Linked DNA regions of Homo sapiens: region 2 is linked to region 1. Evidence: fine-mapped expression QTL. Tissue or cell type: liver. Region 1 holds a variant in brackets; the other region holds the start of a gene. All regions are shown on one strand. Distances are between the middles of the regions.

Region 1 (2,754 bases):
GCTGTGTTGAGCGTTCTGGACACTGGTGCCCCACCCAGCACCCAGCAGGGGCACTCTGCGCTGTGCTGCCCCTCCCCAGCTGCCTGGGCCACCAGTTCAGGAGAGCTCACCCCTTTGCAACCTTTCCCAACTCAATGCCACGCCAGGAAGTCAGGAGGGGGATGACCCTGCCACACTCTGCCCCCCAGCTCCCTTCCCACCATGCCCCGGGACCAAGACAGGAGGGCCAGCTGGGCCCAGGGCACTTCGCCAGTATCATCGGGTCCTCACCACAGCCCTCAAGGGGGTGTTCCTGTTCCACACACAGAAGACTGAGGCCCAGGGATGGGACTGGGTCGTGTGAAACGCCAGGCCATGCCCGGCCCCGCAGAGTCCTGCGTAGCTGCCCGGCCGGCCCAGGGCTCAGATCCCCTCCTCCAGGCCTGGCCCCAGCTGCTATTGGGGCCCACTGAGGCCTACTGGATCCTAACTGGATGCAATTAGGACATCACCTGATGCCCCTGTCAGGGTGGCTCCTCCCAACCGCTAGAGGACTCAGGCCAAAGGCATTTGGGGTGCAGCCCCCACCCTGGCCCTGGTGGGCCGGAGTCATGCTCTATGTGCCCCCCAGCTGTCCAAGCAGGGGTGTACAGAGACTCTGGGGTGGGGTGAGGGTGAGAGCCTGAGAAGGCTGTTGCGGAGGACACACCGGAAACTGTCACCAGGCCCTGCCCTCAGCCGACCCGGGCCAGGGCCAGGAGGGCCTCCTGGGGGCCGCCATCTTTCTGTTCTGGGAAGGCCAGGCTGGGGGTGAGCTCCATGGGGCTCCTGTGTCCTCATCCATTGGTGGGATGCGGCTCCCTCCCGGGGACCTCTCAGGGCACTGATAAGAGCCACCAGGACTAGGTTCAGCCCACAGCAGGTGGGATGCACCCGCCCCTTGGCGGGCCGGGGGTGGAGACCGGGAGTTTCTGGAGAAGGCCTTTCAGATTCTGAAGGCAGGCACTCCATGCCCCATCCCTGGAGCGCGAGTGACAAGTGTCTTTGTCACAGAAGGACAGAAAGGCCCTACGTGGCCCCTGAGCAGCTCTGGGGAACATTCTTGGTCCGGGTTCCTGTCTGGGGGTTCTGGAGTCTAGGATTCCAGGATCTGGGTTTTGAGGTCTTGGGTTGTAGGGTCTGCGGTTTGAAGCCCCTCTTGTAACCCAGGACAGAGGTGAAAGCAGTGGGGTGGACTGGGCAGCCCCCAAAGTTCAATGGACCTAAAGTGCTGGTGCTCAGCCCTGCCCAGGCAGCTGGCAGGTGGTCCAGAAACCCCTCGTTCTATGGAGACTGAGGCCCAAGTCTTTGGAGGTGGTCAGGGGTCTGTCCCAGAGCACCTTTGGGCGAAAGGTAGGGGGAAGACCACCCAAGACGACCCTCCCCAACACCAGCAAGGGAGCCCAGCATCTCCTCTGAGGCCACTGCCCTGTGGGTCCAGCCTCTCTGGGCTGGGTGTGTGGAGGCCGCTCCTATGGCGGTGTGGGCGGTGCAGCTCATTCCCC[C/A]GGGGCTCCCAGCCTCCCACCCCCATCCGGCCTCCTCCTCCAGAGCCTGGGGACTGGTGGATGCCTGCCAAGAACGCCCACAGCCTGCCAGGATGCGCAGGAAGCACACACACGCCTAATCCCACCCCCATTGTCATAGATCCCTCTTGATTCTGGGCCTGTCTTTCTGGGGGAAACTGAGGCCCAGAGGGATTGAGGGCCCCCAAGGTCCCCGAGTCTCCAGGTGTACCTTGGAGGCTGTGCTTTAGTGGGGCCTCCCCCGGCCTTCTTTGCAGTCCTGAGTGTGTGAAGGGGAGGAATCGGGGGCTGCCAGGCCAGGAGCCAAGGCCGGGGGTGGGGAGCAGCTGGCAGGTGTCCCGGCAGGAGGCCCGGCTAGGGGAGACCAGAACTCCTCTGCTCCTCCCTCCCAACGGCTTCCCACCCCACTCTACAGCAGGCCGCTGGCAGGCCCGGAAGGGCTTGGGAGCCGGAGGGTGCTTGCCGGGGCTCCTGAAGGCCTGAGGAGCTCCTGAGGGACTGGAGGCTTCGGGCCTGGAAGGCTGGAAGGCACTGGCCCTGCAGCTTGGTTCCCGGGGCTCCACGTGTCTGAATGCAAAACAAAGGCGGCTCACAATGAGAAGGCGGGTGCTGGGGATCTGCCCCCGTCGTGCATGTGTCACCACACGGTGTCGAAGCGGACACCTGCCTCCGGGATGAGCGCATTGGGCAACACTGCATGCTTTGCATTGGGAACATGTTTGTGTGTGTGCGTTGGGGGTGTGTGTGCGGTGGGGGGCTATGGGCTGGGATGTCCCTTGAGGTGATCAGCTCTCTACGTTCCGCACACACAAACACACAGTGTGACTGAGACACACATGTGAGTATTGAGATCTCCAGGGCTGACTTCCTGCCGGAAGCATGCCCTGGCCCCCGTCACCTTGTGTGAAATTCCTCCACCTGAGCACCTTCCCGGTAGAGCCACGCGTTGCCTGTGATGGAGGGGCCATGACTAACCCAGGCACTAGGCCTGGAGGCTGGGCTGGCTGCGCTGTACAGTTGCAAGGACCTGCCAGACAGCTCTGTGGACAGAGCCTCCGTCGGGGTTTCACCACGTTGGCCAGGCTGGTCTTGAACTCCTGACCTCAGGTGGTCTGCCTGCCTCGGCCTCCCAAGGTGCTGGGATTATACGCATGAGCCACAGTCTCGCTCTGTCACCCAGGCTGGAGTGTAGTGGCACAATCACAGCTCACTG
Region 2 (2,618 bases), 380 kb after region 1:
TCACCATCCACCATCCATCCATTCAGCATTCATCACTCACCAAACATCCACCATTTAACACCCACTTTTTTTTTTTTGAGATGGGGTTTCACTCTTGTTGCCCAGGCTGGAGCACAGTGGCGTGATCTCCGATCACCACAACCTCCGCCTTCCAGGTTCAAACGATTCTCCTGCCTTAGCCTCCCAAGTAGCTGGGATTACAGGCATGTGCCACCATGCCTATCTAATTTTGTATTTTTAGTAGAGATGGGGTTTCTCCATGTTGGTCAGGCTGGTCTCGAACTCCCGACCTCAGGTGATCTGCCCGCCTTGGCCTCCCAAAGTGCTGCGGTTACAGGCGTGAGCCACCGTGCCCCGCCAACACCCACTCTTTATGATCTACCTGTCGGCCATGTATCCATTTATGCCATTATCCATCCACCACTCCCTGATTACCATCCATTCCTTTTCCTTTTTTTTTTTTTTTTTTTGAGACGGAGTCTCGCTCTGTCGCTCAGGCTGGAGTGCAGCGCACGATCGTGGCTCACTGCAAGCTCCACCTCCTGGGTTCACGCCGTTCTGCCTCAGCCCCCCAAGTAGCTGGGACTACAGGCGCCTTCTACCATGCCCGGTTAATTTTTTTGTATATTTTTAGTATAGACGGGGTTTCACCGCGTTAGCCAGGATGGTCTTGATCTCCTGACCTCGCGATCCGCCTGCCTCACCCTCCCAAAGTGCTGGGATTACAGGCATGAGCCACCACGCCCGGCCATTCATTCATTTTTCACTCACCATCCTCATCCATCCATTCATCACCCATCCACCCTCTATCACTCACCATCCACCCCGTCAACCATTTACCATTCATCTGCCATGCGTCCATATGCCGTACACCATGCACCATCAATGTTGCTGTCCATCAGCTGTCCCCTACTCACCATCCACTACTCTCCACCATCATCCACAATCCACCCTCCTATACCATCCACATACCATGTTCCATCCAGGATCTTCCTTCTATCATCCAACCACCACCCACAGCCCATGGGACAGGGGCACTGCGTGGAGAAGTGGACACCCAGTTCCAATGGTGAGCAGACTAGCTCAGCCCTAGCAGCACACAGGACAGAGAAAGGGGTGAATTCAAAGGTCGTTTATTCCCCCTCCCGGCAAGACACCCATTTTACAGGGTAGGTCAGTCTCGCCAAGCCCTTCTTCTTTGCCCTTCTTCCTGAGAACCTAAGGTGTTCAGGCCCTGCAGGGGCGGGTAAGGGGAGGCTGAGAAGGTGCCTCCCAGGGGCCTGAAGAGTCGGCCCTGGGCGGGTCTGGAGGTAAATGTGTAACCGACCCTGGTGCCCCCACCCGACCTGCCTGGTCACGTGGGTCCAGTGGGGCAAAGTCTCCTGGTGGGGTGCAAGGAGCCGAGGCGAGATGGGCGTCCTGGGCCGGGTCCTGCTGTGGCTGCAGCTCTGCGGTGAGCCGGGACCACACCGGTGCGGGCCCGGACGGTAGCGGTCTGTCAGGACCCAGGGCCGAGGTCGCTCTAGGCCTGGAGGGTGAAGATCTTCCGAGGAGTGGGCAGGGAGGGCTTTGGAGGGTTGGGGGCGTGAAACTCGGCCCTGCCTCCCTCGTCTGGCGAGTGCGCAGCCCGGAAGTGCGCGGCCAGTGCATCGGGCGGTGCGGGAGAGGAGAGGAGGGGCTCCGGGAACCTCGGCCAGCCCCGGCCTCCGGCGGCTCCTGCCCTCGCGGTTTTTCCGTCTGCGAAATGGGCGCGGTCCCCAGAACCTGCCGAGAGCAGCGAGTGTGCGCCTGCGGGGCTCGGCAGACCGCCTCAGCTTCCCGGTCCCCAAGGGAGCACTGAGCCCTCCTCCGCCTTCACACCAGGCCGGCGCGTGTCCCTGGCGCCCCCTTCCCTAAACCCCTCGCGGCTCCCTCAGGACAACCCCACCCACCACATTCAGGGCCGGCCTGACCTGGTCCTGCCGCCCCCAGCCCCTTCTTACTTCTCATACCGGGTTGCGCTCTGTCGCAGCTCTTCCCGGCCCAGGTAGGACTCCTCCGGGAAGCCTTCCTGATTCCAAGGCCGAGAAGAGGTCTGTGCTGCCCCATCCTCCTCCATGCCCCAGTTGTCACTGTCCTTAACAACGCTGTCCTCTGCTCCAGCGCCAGGCAAACTGGGGGCAGTGCCGGGAGGCTATCTAGGCAGGCGTCCTGCAGGGCGCGTTTGAGCGGGCTCTGCAGGTATCAGTAGAAGTCCGTTGGAGAGCGCCCGGGCAGGGCGCCCACAGTCTGGCCGGGAGGGACCAGGGTCTGGGTCCGGGCCCCCGGGGATGGGGTTCCTATGCGTCCCGGGTGATCCGCGCGGACCTTCCGCACTTCTCTGGGTGGGTGGCCTTCCCTGAGAAGGGAGCATCCCGGAGAGCATCCCGGGCACTCAGTCGCCTCCTCCCCAGCACTGACCCAGGCGGTCTCCAAACTCTGGGTCCCCAACACGGACTTCGACGTCGCAGCCAACTGGAGCCAGAACCGGACCCCGTGCGCCGGCGGCGCCGTTGAGTTCCCGGCGGACAAGGTGCCTGGGAGCGCCGGCGGGGTCGGTGATGGGCCTGGACCCCTGAGACCGTGTGGCCCCGGTGGGG

Evidence for each region. PIP is the estimated chance that this variant, and not a neighbour inherited with it, causes the effect.
Region 2: AMN starts here. The variant in region 1 is fine-mapped to the expression of AMN in liver (GTEx, PIP 0.98).

Annotation. Positions count from the first base shown.
Region 1 is chr14:102,538,547-102,541,300 of GRCh38, forward strand. MIR4309 (microRNA 4309) reads left to right here and starts at 1,098; the gene lies at 1,098-1,180. The variant C/A (reference allele first, on the strand shown) is at 1,524.
Region 2 is chr14:102,921,279-102,923,896 of GRCh38, forward strand. AMN (amnion associated transmembrane protein) reads left to right here and starts at 1,385. Exons shown (of 12, transcript NM_030943.4): 1 at 1,385-1,453; 2 at 2,433-2,551. The coding sequence starts at 1,411. RefSeq lists a silencer at 1,609-1,808.